Linked DNA regions of Homo sapiens: region 1 is linked to region 2. A link means that fine-mapping ties the variant in region 2 to the expression of a gene that starts in the linked region. Tissue or cell type: whole blood. Region 2 holds a variant in brackets; the other region holds the start of a gene. All regions are shown on one strand. Distances are from middle to middle.

Region 1 (8,338 bases), 38 kb after region 2:
TGAATGGGCTGCTGAAGAATCATCTAGGAAGCCTATGTAAATGAATATTCATAGTCCAACCCTTGAGATTCTGAGTCACTGGGTATGGGGTGTTTCTGATGCACAGTTTTTTTAAAAACCATACTCCTAATTCTTGTTCATTCATTCATACAACAAAGATTTGAATTCCTACTATGCACCAAGCCATGTCAAACGTTCATCTTCTACGGAAGGAAGATCTAGTGTAGTGGCTCTGCCATACTTACTTGCTACAGTATCTTGGGTAAGTAGCTTAACCTCTCTTAAGACTAAATTTTCTAGCCTATAAAACAAAGATAATACTTTCCAGGTTGTTGTGAAAGTTAATGAGATAATATAAAGCATTTAGCACAGGGGCTGACATACAATTCTCGATAAATGCTAGCTATTATTATTTCCTGAGAAACACAACCTAGAGAGTAATTTTTTTCTAGAGATTAAATTTAAGCAAAGTAACAAGGAAATAGTCTAGGCATTCACATATCGGCAGGGGGGTGGGGGGGGGGAACCTAAACCAAGTAAAGATTACACAGAGGGTTTTCTCTAATTAGGTGAATCAAATTCATAAGGCTGAGATTTTTTTTTGTAAGAGTTCTTTAAACAGAAATACAGTTAACTTTACTAACAACAATGAAGCAACACATAAAGTTCTGAAAAGGCAGTCAGGAGTCCCCGGAGTGTTAACAGAAAGAACACAGGACTTAAATACAGAACTCAGGTCCAAATAGCAGATCGAACCACCTGCCAGGTAGACGGCATCAAAAAGGTAATTTAAATTCTCTCATTCTGTTTTTTCACTTATAAAATTAGGTTAAAAAATAGCTGTCACAGAAAGCATGGCCAGCAGGTCCTCCACAGGACCTTTCCGTTCTGTGCCTAAAATTCTGAACTGTGTTTTACAATAAGCCTGAAAGTTCGTTCACCGCAATATAGTATTTGCAATCCAAAGTCAATATTTCAACACAAAATTGGCAGGCAGGAAAGGAGGGAGAGTCTTTCGCTAAGTCTAAGTAAGAGTCTGACTTCTCACTAGGAGCATGTCTGTTGTACTTACTTCAAACAGCATGCAAAGCATGACTCATCAAGGAATAAGAATTTCAATGAGTGCTTTTTGGTTAAGAAGCTATTGTGAATATTTCTGCCTTTGGAGATGGCTAAAGAAATAGCATTATTAAGCCGGTGCAGTGGCTCATGTCTGTAATCCCAGCACTCTGGGAGGATGAGGTGGGTGGATCACCTGAGGTCAGGAGTTCAACAACAGCCTGGCCAACATGGTGAAACTCTGTCTCTACTAAAAATACAAAATTTAGCTGGGCGTGGTAGTGGGCGCCTATAATCCCAGCTACTTGGGAGGCTGAGGCAGAAAATCACCTGAACCCAGGAGGCAGAAGGAGGTTGCAGTGAGCCAAGATCATGCCACTGCACTCCAGCCTGGGCGATGAGAGCAAAACTCCATCTCAAAAAAAAAAAAAGAAACAGCATTATTATTAAACAATACGCACAGAATTCATGGAAGAAACATGAACTTCCCACATATACCTTCCTTCATTTACCCAGCTTTTCCCCACTGCTCTTCAAACAAGATCATTCTTATCTGCACTAATTGCTGAATTGTGGCCACAAGATGAACATACTCCTCTTTCACTGACACCTACAAGATATTTAAGCTTACATTTTAAGATTGCTAAGAAGTTGAAGTCAGTTAGCAAAATTCCTTAATCTGCTCCAGATATGAATATATCCAAGACTTTGACCATAGGGCTATATTAACCTCTGCTATCATAATCAGTGGAACTAATTTACCAATATTTTATTTACCAGGGGAAAAAAAAAGACATAAAAGGGAAAAGGAAATTCACAATGCAGCTCTGTAACCAAGCTACGATATAACAAGGAGTTAATAAGGAGCGCCCTCATTTGGCTTGAATGATGGAGAAACTTGAGTAAAAACATGCATTTAAAAAAAACCTTTAAGGCTGGGCGCGGTGGCTCACACCTGTAATCCCAGCACTTTGGGAGGTTGAGGCGGGTGGATCACGAGGTCAGGAGATGGAGACCATCCTGGTCAACATGGTGAAACCCCATCTCTACTAAAAAGAGAAAAATTAACTGGGTGTGGTGGCATGTGCCTGTAGTCCCAGCTACTCGGGAGGCTGAGGCAGGAGAATAGCTTGAACCTGGGAGGTGGAGGTTGCAGTGAGCCGAGATCGTGCCACTGCACTCCAGCCCAGCGACAGGGCAAGACTCCATCTCAAAACAAACAAACAAACAAACAAAAAAACAAAAAGCAAAAAACACATTTAAAAAACGATCCCTTCCACCGCCCAGAAAAAAAAAAACCTTAGGATGATCATACAAGTGTTACAATGTTTTTTTAAAAAATGTTTGTGAATGCCTTTTAAAGAAAATGCTTTTCTCACCACTAATAGCAGGTTTGAGTTCTGTTATTTAGTTTTCAAGCCACCAATGGGAATCTATGTGCCCCAACTGTATTTTACAATGCTTTCCAATACAGACCAAAAAAGTGTGTAGATAAGGGTATCAATGTGAATGAAGCATTTCTTTTCAAATTCTTTTCAAAATAAGTATTCTCTTTTATGACCTGAATCTAGGTGATTCATATGTTGAGTTTTGCTGGACGATCCCTAAAAGTTTTGGGCTTAAGTTTCAAGTTTCCTAACTCTTAACAGCTTTCCTATCTAAGACGATCAAGTTTTACAGATGGCCACTTTTTTTCAGCCACCTTTCCCCTAATTTATATAATGAATGAAATGAGCAACCTGATTCAGGTTATAACTTTTTACTTAAACTAAGTGAGTAATTGTAATTTAGAGACCTCAGAGCTGAATGCATTCTCTAAAGCATAAAAAAAATTAGACAAATTACAGGTGCACAATTTGCATTCGGGGACCACAGAATTTTGAAATGTAAAAGCTCCCTGTTAAGGCCATACTTAGAGATGTTTATCTCAGGGTCCTCAACCTCAAGGACTTATCCTCCATGTGCAAATAAAGCTGAAGGTGTAACTTCCCAGGAGGCACCACTGGAAACTTGTAAGACCAAAAAGGCTTTTGAGAACCAAAATAACTGAAACTCTAAAGGGGGAATTTCAGATTGTGACAAATGGTAAAAGAGAGTGAGGTGGCAAGGGGACTCCTAATCAGTTCCATTCAAATCATCAATGTGCAGTTAATAACCTCTCCTTATTGGAGAAACCAATGTAATAACTTAAAAATACACTATTGTGATAATCGTAATTTTAAAACAGAAATAGCCTAGGTTAAATTGAACCCCTCTTCCCGATCCTACTGGTCATTCAGCATGTTTTAAATTCAAGGTTGCCCTTTAGGAAAGGAGGTCACTTAAGGACAGTTTATCTCAATGAAACATCTTGTATACTAATTCGAAACTATTTCAAAAGGGGGAAAATGGAGATTAGAAAAGTAACATACTACTTGAGATGTTACCATATTATTTCTCAGGGCCACAATTATTTACACTATTTTTTTGAAAACGCAGTAATTTCTAAAGCATTAATTATGTAGCAATATTCGTCACTTTAACAAAACACATTTGAAAAGTCCTATCCTACTGACTCAGGCCAAATCTAATTTTAAAACTGAACCTAGACATAAAAATACTCACCAATTAGACTAAGAAGGGAGAAATAAAAAAAATTATTGGTTCAGAGAAATGAGACTGAATTAAGGAAAAACTTTTAAATAAAGTGTTCATCAAAAAAATACATAGAAGTTCCAAGGCTAGTGTTTTCCTAGGAGAATATTAAGAAGTTGGTGGTTTCTCTCTACCTAACTGGGATTTTAGAAACTGCCACACTAGCTAGTTATGAGAATGAAGATTAAAGAAATTTCACATAAAGAGTGAAGGACACACAATCTTTTAAGTAACAATAATGAAATCAATAATTATAATTAATAATAAAAAAAAAAGCCTGACAGTCCACCTCTTACTGACTTCCCCCTCAAAAAAAAAAAACTGGGAGTGTTCTGGGAATTGGAGAGATGTCATCAGCACAGAAAAAAAAACCACTTTCCTATATGTCATCCTGAAGCAGTGATTCTACATAAAAATAAGGGTAGTCTATTCTCTATGCAGTTATGAGTGTGGTACAACTCTCTAAAACGTCTATTAATACAAAATGAACGACCACACTTTAAAGCCACTCTACATTTTCGCAAACTACCCTACATATCTACGAGTAACTATTTGCAACTTAAACACCCTCCTATATACCTCTATACCTTCCTGCTTCCTTCAAGATACCATCACAGAATGAACGAATACAACTTAAATTAGTTTATTTTCCAGGGTGCTTCCTTTCCCCCACTCCATGAAACATAAGTACATTTTTTTAAGTCATATAAATGGACACCAAGCACCGGTAATTCAGTCTCTTTAAAACCTGCTTAAAAGTTCTAGTAAGATGTGCTCAGGTTGGAAACTAAAAACTACCTTATAAGGGTATAAAAGACTGAAAGCAGGAAGCGGCTTTGACAAAACTAAGGAAGTTGCAGCGCGCTTGCTCACTGGGGGACTTTTTTGAGGCTACAGAAGTAACACATGACATCTTTCTCCCTCGAATTAAAATGTGACTTGGTTCACCGGTTAAAACGCAGAGGGAGATGGAAATGACCAGGAGTCGAAAGGAGAAGGTGGGTGGTCAAATGAAAGCCCCACTGTAGGTTCCCATTTTCAGAGTCCGATTCTTCCCTTTCCCCACCCACACCCTGGGCAGAATGTTGTCACAGCGATCTTGTCAAACCTACCAGGAGCGCTTCTCTTTTCTAGCTCCCCTGCCAGGCCAGTCCCCGAGCTCGGCCCCTGGGTCCCCAAACCGACTGGCAAAAACGGGCGCGGAGGGAAAGGAAAGCCGGATGGGTCGGGCCCGGGGACCACCCCCAAGACGACCGTCCCCAGCGCCCTTTGGGCGGCGCTGCCCACCGTAGTGGGGGAAGGGCCGGGAGGGGTCGCGCGGAGAAAGCCGCTGGGAGGGTTGGGGGTTGAATCTCGGGCCCGCGCCCCCGCCCCAGTCCCAGGAGGGAGAAACGAGGGGACCCGCGAGGCCCTGGCTGCGGGCCCCACCCCTCGCTGGCCGGCGGGTCTAGGACTGACAGCCGGCGGCGGCACCTCGCCGCACCATTCATTTCCCGGCCTCCTCCCTCCCCCGCCATCTTCCTTCCTCCGCCTCAGTTTCCCCACCCCCGCCCGTAAGCCCCCTTACCCCGTGCCACAGTCCACCACACAGGCCGGCAGCCGTCCCGCCATCTTCCTCCTCGCCTGCTGCTGCTGCTGCCGCCGTCTGCTCCGTGCTGCTAGGGGCCAGAGATTGGCGGCGGGAGACAAGGGCTATCTGACCATCCACAGCTGGGCCGCCTTCACCGTCCGGGGGGTAGCCGGGAAGCCGAAGCAGTAGCAAGAAAGCAGCAGGCTCGGTCGGCGGCTATCACTTCCGCAACCCAGGCAGGCAGGCAGTCCCCGCCCTGCCCCGCCGCGGCCTCCTCCCCCTCTCTCTTCCCTCCTCCTCACTCCTGCCCCCACCCTACAACTTCTTCCCCTCACGCCGCCTTTCCCCGGGAAGCCAAGATGGCCGCCGGTGCCGACGCCCCGGCCAGGCCAGGCCCAGGCCCCCAGCGCTCCCCCTTCCGCTCCGAGCGGGAGGGGCTAGCGAGCATGCGCAATAAGGTACGTTCGCCTGCCTGGGCTCCGATCCTGAAGTTGGTGAAATCCACTGCGGGTTTTCCAGGAGTGTAGAGGCGGAGAAGTCTATCCGAGCTTCCAGTTCTGCTTCTGAAGCTGGAAGGGGCTTTTCGGTTGTAACCCTTGGGTTAGTTTCAGTTACTTCTTTGCTAGGTTGAGGAAAGGGTGGAAGCGCCTCCTGCAGCCACGAATATCCTCCAGTGCCTGAGAGAAAACGGCCTAATCGAAAACGTCCGCGGCATACATCCATTCTTAAAACTTGAGTGGCTGCTTTTCTGGGTGGAAAAGAGCGGTATCAGACAGGGTGAGCAGTCGGGGAACGGATGAACAAAGACTTGCACCGTGGCCCTGATGCCTTTGTTCCGAGTTCTATTCAGTTGTACTTGTGCGTTGTTACAGGACTTTAGAATGCAGCCCTGCCCCCCAACCCCCACCTCCCAGGGCCGACCTGTGCTCCTAGGAAGGCAAACCTCCCAGGAATATATTCTGCATAACTATACAAATAGGCCTTTATTCAAGGCTTTTGGATTATGACAAAGATTACCCTCAGGAGTAGTAAGATTCTACTAGCAGGATAATAGAAAGGATTAAGGCTCCCCTCCAAAGAAAATTTTTTTAAGTTAGAAACGGAGGCGAGCCGCAGTGGGTCATGCCTGTAATTTCAATGCTTTGGAAGGCCGAGGTGGGAGGATAGGATAGCTTGAGGCTAGGAGTTCGAGACCAGCCTGGGCAACATGGGGAGACCCCCCCCCATCCCTCCAAAAAAGAAAAGAAAACTGGAAAGCCTTAAAGAAACCTTTCAAACTTTAGTGTGTATCAGAATTACCTGAAAGGTTTGTTAAAACAGATTGCTGGGCCATACCCCCAGAATTCTCTGACTGGGCTATCGGAAATAATGCCTGAGAATGTGCATATCTAATAAGTTCCTAGTTCCACTTTAGGACCCTAGAAGGTTAGTATCTTTCCTCTCTACCAGGCTTATCTTAGGATGAACCGTTCGGGGTTTGCTGATGTGAAGCTAAAACAAAAATATTCTTTAAAAGGAGGGATGTCTTATTCAGTCCATAAGATCATCTAATGTATTAAGCTGGCTTGGGGGATGAATCGGGTGTTTCATTCATTCATTTGACAGGTAAGCATTGCTTACCTACTCTATTATGACGGGGTCTGTGCTGACTCCGAATATTCGGTGGGATGCAAAATAGTTAAGTGCTCTTGTAGAGTTTACAGATTAGCGGAAAACAGACAAATTGTGTTAAGAGCAATAGAAAGAAGAGAGCGGAGGACTCTGAGAAATGAAGGCGAGGAGTGGGAGAATGAGAGGAAGGTGGAAGGCAGGTAAGGAGTCTGACCAGCTGGTATTTAAAAGCTAAGATGGGGGGAAGAGTCTCCCAGGAGAGTGAACAGCAAGTGTCAAGGACCTGAGGCAGGAACAAGCTTGGCTTCTTCCACAAATTGAAAGAAGATCCATATGAAAGAGTCAGAGAAGATGCAATGGGAGATGAAGACTGAGAGATAAGGAAGAGTGAAACAGTGCAAGAATTTGTAGACTGCTCTAAGCATTTTAAAGTTTATCTTAAAAGCAGCTTGATAAATTAGATTTATGGTAATTAGTTTAAAAATAAAAATAAAGCAACTTGAAAGGATTTAGGCAAGAAAAAGTTGTGTCTGCTTTGTAGAGAATGGCTCCAGCAGAGTCCAGATTGAATCATACATTGTATGATATTCTGTGTTCCGGAGTTCGCAGATAGAAGTATGTGAGGGCCAGCATCCAAATGGAATCAGGTATGTGCAGAGGAGACTCACTAAAGGGCATCATCATCAATTAGTGCCCAGCATGTCTGCAGCTATTCACGAGAGAAGGCTTTTTTTAGAGGTTGTTTTCAGAGAAGTCAAACAACTGGTTGTCTCAGATTCGTTGTCGTTGGTTTCTCCACTACATTTTAGAAGATGCTAGATGGGGACTCTTTGCTGCCGCTTCTACTACCTGGTAATTAAAGTCTTTTGAGGAAGCATATGCTTGAAGATTGGCTCTGACAGAAAAGACAGATGTGGTTTAGTAGGGGTAGAATAAATGGTTGTTTCCAGCAGTTACAAGTAGTAAGTCAGGAGTGAAGAGATCCTACCAAAGAAGTTTCGAGAGCAGAGGTTAGTGCCCTCGGTCACTTGGGCAGCCCATGCCGGTGGCCCTCAAGGTAGCTGCCCACACTCTGGCCTTGCACAGTTGTCATGGAAGTAGTTAACTCAAGCAGGGTTGGAAACTAGTGCTTCGAGGTCTAGGCAGGTACTGTTATGAGTGAAGGGGGCCATGAGGAGGGTATGGCAATGTGAGAGCCCACAACCCAACAGAAGGCAACAGACAACTGTTGCCATGTGGAAATACAGCCCTGGTATTGCCAGAGCCTTTTTTCTTCCCCAAGAGAAATCTGAAATCTGCATTTTTATCTTTGGTAACTGTAATGGTTTGAATGTGTTCCCCAAAGTTCATGTGTGAGAAATATAATTTCCAGTGCAACAGTGCTGAGAGGTGGGAGCTTTAAGAGGTGATTAGGCCAGGAGGACACTGTCTTCATGAATGAATCACAGGACTGGGTGCCTGATA
Region 2 (8,338 bases):
CCAGTTATTCAATACATATATGGCTATAAACAACTATTACTAAAAGATTACCTTCTTTTTCTTTTTTTCTTTGAGACAGAGTTTCTTTCTGTCACCCAGGCTGGAATGCAGTGGCACGATCTCGGCTCACCGCAATCTCCGCCTCTTGGGTTCAAGCAATTCTCTGCCTCAGCCTCCGGAGTAGCTGGGATTACAGGTGCCCACCACCACACCCGGCTAATTTTTGTATTTTCAGTAGAGACGGGGTTTCACCATCTCAGCCAGGCTGATCTTGAACTCCTGACCTTGTGATTCACCTGCCTCAGCCTGCCAAAGTGCTGGGATTATAGGCATGAGCCACTGTGCCAGGCCTACCTTCAAATTTTTTTAAGGTAACATGTGTTTAGGACTATATGACATACAGAAAACGCCATCGCACACCTCCAAATACTACTATGATTTAATTATGGAGCAACGTTGATAAAATTTTTCTATGAAAAACCTTGGTACAGACAATACAACACAATTCTTTTTTAAGTGTGAGAATTAAGAAATTAACATAGTTCATTTTTTAAAAAACTAAATTTCTTACAATCCAAGCCTCAAACAAAGTATATGACTAGTAATTAAAAACAACTAAACTTATACTGGACTTATTTTACCTACCTGGACTGTAATAGCTAAAAGGGACCTAGAAAGCTATCTAGGTCACCCTCCTATCTGAACACAAGATCATATTAACACAATCACCACATAATCACTATAGGCTAACAGAACTATACATTATTTTTTGACAATCTTAAAATGAAAAATTCCATCCTAATACTAGTTATATATATATATACTGTTTAGACTTCATTATGAGATATCCTTCCTCTATAAGTAAGTTCAAAACTATCATCTACAACCAAGAATTATCTCTGATCACTTTTACAAGTCTTTTGTAAACAGTTACGGTCCCAAACTAGAATAGATATGTATCAGCACATCATGTTACAGAAATGTTATTGACTACTGAACATCAACAAAACAGAACAGAGATTAAATAATGAAATTAAGAGCACTCAGAGGCCACTAAGGAAATCACTGAAAAACCAAATTACGACTCCAGAGGAATGAAACAAAGCTCATGATGCCAGTGTTTTAAAGTAAGCTTTACCTGACAATATGGTTAAACATAAGTTTATTATATTTAACATAGGATGAGAAGCAAAAACTCCCAAGTGAAAGATGAATTTTCCCAACTCCTCATTTTATTCATATTCTAAGAACTAAAAAAGGGCCTCCCACTCAAGACTGAATTCTTCTATAAAGTTCATGACAGGTTTAAGTGACTCCTTAAATATTTTTAGCAGCAGAGAATTTAAAAGGCAGTTCATTAAATTTATGGATTGCATTAAACATTAAAAAGTTCTTTGCTATCCAAGTTAAAATATTCATCCATAATTATCACTTATTGATTCTGTGTACCGTGGAGTTACAAAAACCAGTGTGATCCCAAGAAAGAGCAAAGTCAGACAGACCTCAGCTGCCTGGTATCACAGCTAACCATTTAATTATGAATAAAGTGCCTTCCAGCTTTAGTTTTCTTCCTCCACAAAAAACAGAAACAAAAATATCTACATTTAATAGAAATAATGAATTAATACACATATAAAGCATTTGTGTTATGTCAGGGATTACCTCTGCTACAAGGGAAAAAAAAAAAAAATGAGGTCAGCTCTGATCCTGAGGGGTGGGAGAGAAGCTGTTCCATACAGATAAACGTACAAATTAAGAGAAGTGAAATATTAGGGTGTCAAATATACCTAAAGATAAGTCAATCAAAAAAGACTACAATAAAGGACAAAAAGATTTATAAGGATAAATGATAAAGGATTATTTACAAGGATAAATATATATACAATGTTCTTGTCACAGAGAAAGCATTCCATAAATATTAGTTCCTTCATTTCTGTCCTATGAAAGCCCTTGAAATACCCAAACACCACTAACTTACTTTTTTAACACTTCTCTTTTCCTGACTAAATATCTCCACTTCCCATAATATTACTTCTAAATTAACAATTCAGGAGAGAAGTATAACATGCTTTGACATTATGTTTAAACCTTTGCAGAAAAAAAAAAAAAGTACGTATTTTAGGCAGCAAATTAAACTAGGTTAAAATGTAAGAATCAAACTTAGAAAGTATGAACTTGCTTACCTGCACAGCAATGTACAAGCCTGGAACATTGAAGGACTCAAACATTATTTCAGCAGTATATTCCCTGTTTTCTGGAGTATTCAATGGAGGTTCAGTCTATTGAAATAAATAACATTTTAAATAGATAATATCAGATTATTTTGATAACTTTCTTGACAATTTTTAAATGAGAAGTAATTTATTTCAAACATTTTATTTAAAATGCATTAAATTTACAAGTAGAAAGACAGACACAGAGATCAAAGGAAAACTATAGAGAATTCAAACATCCATACATATATGAAAACAGTATGGTAATTCACATTTTAAAAAAAAAATACCCTGAATGCCTATATCATACCACTTATACAGATTAAACATTAAAAAGAAATGAAGCAGGGAGAGAGAGGGTTGGAGGTAGGGAAAAGGTGGTCCAGTCAAATCATCCTTTAAATATGGTAATGACAAACCTCCAGAAAAAACATCAATGGTATTTGCCAGTGGGAGAGCCCTCATCTAAGTAATGCTTTTAGATGAATGTCCCCGAAGTATATAGGATTACAGTAAACAAGCCGAGATTCTACAGATCTAATGGTACAGCTTTCTGAAAAATGTTATATTAATTTACCTGTTAAGAGCATAGAATCAAGATGTTTGCAGAGCACTCTTCTGTTTATGTGACTGTATACATCACTTAGAAACCTCACAGGTTAAGTCTGGGACAGAACACACTCTAAAGAGGCAAGGAAGGACTCAGAGATCTGGCAGTCTTGGACTTCATATTTCACCTATGCCTCATGATCACTTAAACTGTTTCAATTTTTAAAGATTAACACTGGGTAAGACCTCTGATTCTTGTGAGTCTGACTGGCAATCTAATAGGTATCTCAAATACTTAAATGTAAAAGAAAAATTTTTAAATTTAAAAAAGACACAGAATTCTCTTTTTGACCTTAAGGTAGGAATAACTCCTTAAATTTCTGAAGTACAAATCACAAAGGGAAAAAGTGATAAAACTTGAATCCATTAAAAATTAAATATTTTTAAAATTATTATTTCAAAAGAAATATAAAGCAAAACAACTAAGTATACTGTTACCTTACATAAAACCTTTATAAGCTAAACTCCCTGTGGTGTTTAAACTTCTTTAGAAGAGTTCTGGAGCTATGTTTAAAAGTCTGGAGATAATTTACTGATGAATACATACAAAATTAAGTAAACTAAAAACCAAGGCAGTGAAATTATAAACTCCAAGAAAAAAAATCTACATAAAAGATAATCAGAGGACCCCACAAAGGAAAATATACAAATAGCTAATAATAACAATCGTACATGAAAGACTGCTCAACATAATTATCAGAAAATGAAAATTAAAATTAAAAGCAAATGAAAAATCGTACACACCCACCAGAACGGCTAAAATTTTAAAGACTGACAAGCTAGCAGCGCAGTGGCTCACATCTATAATCCCAGCACTTTGGGAGGCCGAGGTGGGCAGATTACTTGAGACTAGAAGTTCAAGACCAGCCTGGCCAACATGGCAAAATCCTGTCTCTACTAAAATTACAAAAGTTAGCCAGGTGTGGTGGTGCATGCCTGTAATCCCAGCTACTCAGGAGGCTGAGGCACAAGAATCCCTTAAACCTGGGAGGCGGGGAGGTTTCAGTGAGCCAAGATCACACCACTGCACTCCAGCCTGGGTGACAGAGCAAGACTGTCTCAAAAAAAAAGTATAAAAGATTGATAAGCCAAATCTTGAATAGAGCAAGCAGATTACTAATGCATCACTGGGGGGTGTGCAAAAAGGTTCACCATCTTGGGAAAAGTTCCCATGAGTTTCCCTAAAAAACCAATCAGGTACCTACCCTATGACGCTGCAATTCCATACTTACGTATTTAGACAAGAGAAATGAAAACATATGTCCACAAAAAGTCTTGTAGAAGAAGGTTCACAATGGTCAAATTATTTTATTATAACCAAAAACTAGAACTAAGCCAGGCATGGTGGCAGCACTTTGAGAGGCCATGGCGGGAGGATCACTTGGAGCCCAGGAGTTCAAGACCAGCCTGGGTGACAAAGTGAGACTCCATCTCTAAACCAGAACACATTACCCAGGTGTGGTGGCCCGGGCCTGTGTGTCCTAGCTACTCAGGAATCTGAGCTGGGAGAACTGTTTGAGCTGGGAGGTCAACACTGCAATGAGCCATGATTGATCCACTGCATTCCAGCCTGAGCAACAGAGCAAAACCCTGTCTTAAAAAAACAAAAACAAAAACAAAAAAAAAA[C/AC]AAAAATAGCCCAGGTATTCATCAACAGGAAAATGGATAAAGTGAGGCAAATTTATACAATGGAATACTACCCAGCAACAAAAAGCAACAAATCACCAGTATATGCAACATAATTCAATCTCCAGATTATGCTAAGTAAAAGTGTTTCACCAAAATGCACATATTGCATGATTCCATTATTTGACACTCAAACATGGGCAAAGCTAATCTCAGATGAAAAAGAAACAGTGGTTGTCACTAGGGCACGGGGGCAGAGATTAATTACAAAAGGGCATGAGAAAACTTTCCACGCTGATAGTAATTTCTCTATATCTTGGTAAGAGTTTAGGTTACACAGATGTATGTAACTGACAAAGATTGGACAAATCACATCATGCATCCTGCAGGTCAAATACAGCCCACCACCTGTTTTGGTAAAAAAAAAAAATTTATTGGAACACAGACATACCTATGAATTTAAGTATTGTCTATGGCTGCTAACATGCTACAACAGCACAGCTGAGTAGCTGTGACAGGGACCATTGTATAAAAAGTTCTCATTAAGTTTCCTCAGGGACTATAACCCCTGCAAAGCCAAAAATATTTGCTATCTGCTCCCTTAGAAAGTTTGCCAAACCCTGGTCAAAATCCACTGAATGGTGCAGACCGGTGATTTTATGATATGTAAATTTTATATGAAAAGAATAACCATACACAAATGATAGCTCTAGTTGATGAAATACGTGCTAAAGTATTTAGGGGTCAAATGACTCCCATTTGCAACTCACTTTGAAGTGATTTAAAAACTAAAATGAAGTGAAAGATGGATAGACGTCATGAAGCAATTATAGCCAAATGTTAAGGTTAATCATCGAATCTAGATTGTGGGTGTATGAGTGTCCATAGTATGGTTCTTTCAACTTTATAGTCCATCACAATCACCGAAAGACACAGAATATTGATTTAACCAAAAATTGTGATGTAACTACAATGCGAGGAGTGGGAAAGGATAGGTATTTTGTGTTGAGGGAGAGAAAAGGTAAAAAGGGAAATTCTCATTTTTCCTATTAGGAAGTTGGTAAATAATGTATAATATTCTTAAAGACAGAAGAAATAAAAAAAAAATGTTAAATAAAAGAAACATGTTAAAAGATTACTAGCAGGGCAAACTTTGTTAAAATTGAAAATGTTTGCCTCCGGGGAATATGAACCAAAGGTTGGGAGAGGTAAGAAAGGAAAGTGTTATTTTGTTGTTTTAAATCTTATAAAGTCATTTGATTTTTTAAGTTATGAACATGCACTGCTTTAATAAAAAGATGTTTAATAAAAAGTTAGATTATATTGTATTTTTGTTATGAAGAAATACCAATGATATAATAATCAGACTATTGTTTTTTAAGCAAAAAAGTGCCACAGGTTTCCAACATTTTTCTGAACATTACTTACTGTTTCTATCATAAAGATTAGACATTAACTACCAAAAGCACTTCTTAAGTGTTTAACATGTGGTGCTTTGACATACTACTATTCTCCTGTAGCCATAACTAGATGGTCTTAAAGATGATACAGCTTTATTACAAAGTCATTTAGACATATGACAATTTAATAACCAAAGTATACCAAAGAAGTATGATGAAAATGTTCTCATTAAGTGTATTCAAAAATTTCCTCAGTGAAATTATAACTTGTAACTTACCAAAAGAAAATAATGGTCTTCAGGTTCTGCCCTTAAATATTTAAAGATCACTTGCTCCATAAACCTTTCCATTAAGTCCCAATCTTCAACTATACCATGGCGGATTGGCCACTATTAAAACAAAAAGGGAAATACAAATTAAATCTTATTAATATAAAAAACAAATAAAAATACAAAAAAGGAAATATCAGATCATTAGTGGATATTAGATGAGGATATATTCATAGGTGTGATACTATAGAACATCCTTAAAAGATGTGTACTTAAGGATTTAAAGATAAATTAGTTCAATAACGCATTGTCAGATGGATGGTTCAATAAAAACAAAGTGAATATGTCAAAATGTTAAAAACTGTTAAATCTACATGGAAGACCATTGTACTAGTCTTTCTAGATTTTAAAAGTTTTGTAATAAAAGGATAAGTTAGCCTACAAAAATTAAGCCTAAAAAACTATACTTTATCACAATTTCCTTAATTTTTAATGCATTAGGCCATTAACAAGTATTTGTTGTATGCCGAATATAAAAAGTGCACCTGTAAGTACATACCTAGAATAATTGTAAGAATCAAGCACATAAAATGTTATAAGAAAAGTTTTATAAATGTTTAAGAGTCATGCTTCCAAAACTGTGTGCTAAGATACCTACTATGATTTGGATGTGGTGTGTTCCCACCAAAACTCATGTTAAAATTTAATTCCCAGTGTTATAGTATCGAGAGGTGGTAGGGCCTTTAAGAGGTCATCAGGTCATTAGAGGAATTAATGCAGTTCTCAGCAGGACTGAGTTAATTCTCCAGAGGGTTGAAGGCAGGCTGTTACAAAGTGAAGTTGTCCCTTGTATTTTGTCCCTTTCCTCTTCCATTCCCCAACATGTTATGAAGCAGCATGAGGTCCTTACCAGAGGTTGATCAGATGTGGCCAACTCATCTTGGACTTCCTCACCTCCAGAACCACAAGCCAAAATAAACCTCTTTTCTTTATAAATTACTCAGTCTCAAGTATTCATTATAGCAACAGAAAATGAACTGAGACAGCACCCCAGTGTACTACCATAAATTCACAAGGGCGCCGCAAAGTTATTTTAAATTTTCCAGGGAAATATAGTGTTACTCAACATCAGTTGGACACTGCGTGATCTACAAGTCACAGTAATTCAGTTTCAACAATAAATCAAACTATTATATATTCCTTTCAATGACATTATTTCTTACAGAAGTTGGTTTGTCAGCAGTTGCTGGCATAAAAACCAAGTTATCACATAAAATAACATCGATATAAAACAAGAAATCAGGGTGGCAATGTCCCATCTGATTCCAGGTTTGAGAAGCTGAGCGATGCCTAAGCATCCTAACAGAAATGTGATTACTCAGCAGTGAAATAACGTTTCCAATTTAAGTGTCTTATTTTTTTCAAGTGGCTACTAAGTTGCCTGGACCTAGGTATTTAATAAACAGAACTATCAGACATTTCTTTCGATCTAGGTGGCACAGTGAAAAACGTTACTGAGACCCTAACGGCACTGAGAAAGTTTGTGAACCTCTGCAACAGAATATAATTCCATGAACATAATACACATTCAATACCTAAAGTTAAACAAATTAATGAACAAAGAAATAAATACCTTGCAGTATCAATCCCTAACATCTACTTCTTACTCTAGTTTCCACACTACTTTTTAAGGCATTATACTTATAAAAGGACTTCTACTCCCCAGTTTGCTTTAAGGAAGGAAAAAATTGCAGTTTACTTTATCATTCAATTTTTAACATTATTAGAAGTTTACAAATTCAAATGTTTTAAGTATTATTTATTCATCAATTATTACTGTGTACCTACTGTAAGCCACTGGCACAAATGCTAAGGACACAGACATCCAGCATACAAAAAACTCAGTCTAGCAAAAGAAATATATACGAACAAATATTACACTACAGGTTTTTAAAAAAAATAAAGTTCCGACTGGGCGTGGTGGCTCATGCCTGTAATCCCAGCACTTTGGGAGGCCAAGGCAGGCAGATCACCTGAGGTCAGGAGTTTGAGACCAGCCTGGCCAACATGGTGAAACCCCGTCTCCACTAAAAATACAAAAATTAGCCAGGCGTGGTGGTGCATGCCTATAATCCCAGCTACTCGGGAGGCTGAGACAAGAGAATCACTTGAACCCAGGAGGCGGAGGTTGCAGTGAGCCAAGATCACTCCATTGCACTCCAG

The links. PIP is the estimated chance that this variant, and not a neighbour inherited with it, causes the effect.
Region 1: ACTR3-AS1 starts here. The variant in region 2 is fine-mapped to the expression of ACTR3-AS1 in whole blood (INTERVAL, PIP above 0.99).

What each region holds. Positions count from the first base shown.
Region 1 is chr2:113,887,246-113,895,583 of GRCh38, reverse strand. ACTR3-AS1 (ACTR3 antisense RNA 1) reads left to right here and starts at 4,592. Exons shown (of 5, transcript NR_110174.1): 1 at 4,592-4,691. ACTR3 (actin related protein 3) reads right to left here and starts at 5,495. Exons shown (of 12, transcript NM_005721.5): 1 at 5,261-5,495. The coding sequence starts at 5,304. It overlaps LOC124906071 (a long non-coding RNA gene), which reads left to right and starts at 5,817. Exons shown (of 3, transcript XR_007087205.1): 1 at 5,817-7,521. RefSeq lists enhancers at 4,555-4,734, 4,785-4,834, 4,917-5,572, 5,605-5,694, 5,815-6,124 and silencers at 4,965-5,224, 5,465-5,524.
Region 2 is chr2:113,925,242-113,933,579 of GRCh38, reverse strand. ACTR3 (actin related protein 3) reads right to left here. Exons shown (of 12, transcript NM_005721.5): 4 at 6,125-6,235; 5 at 2,184-2,279. Among named protein-coding and RNA genes, the nearest start is that of ACTR3-AS1, 38 kb to the right of the region's middle. The variant C/AC (reference allele first, on the strand shown) is at 4,450.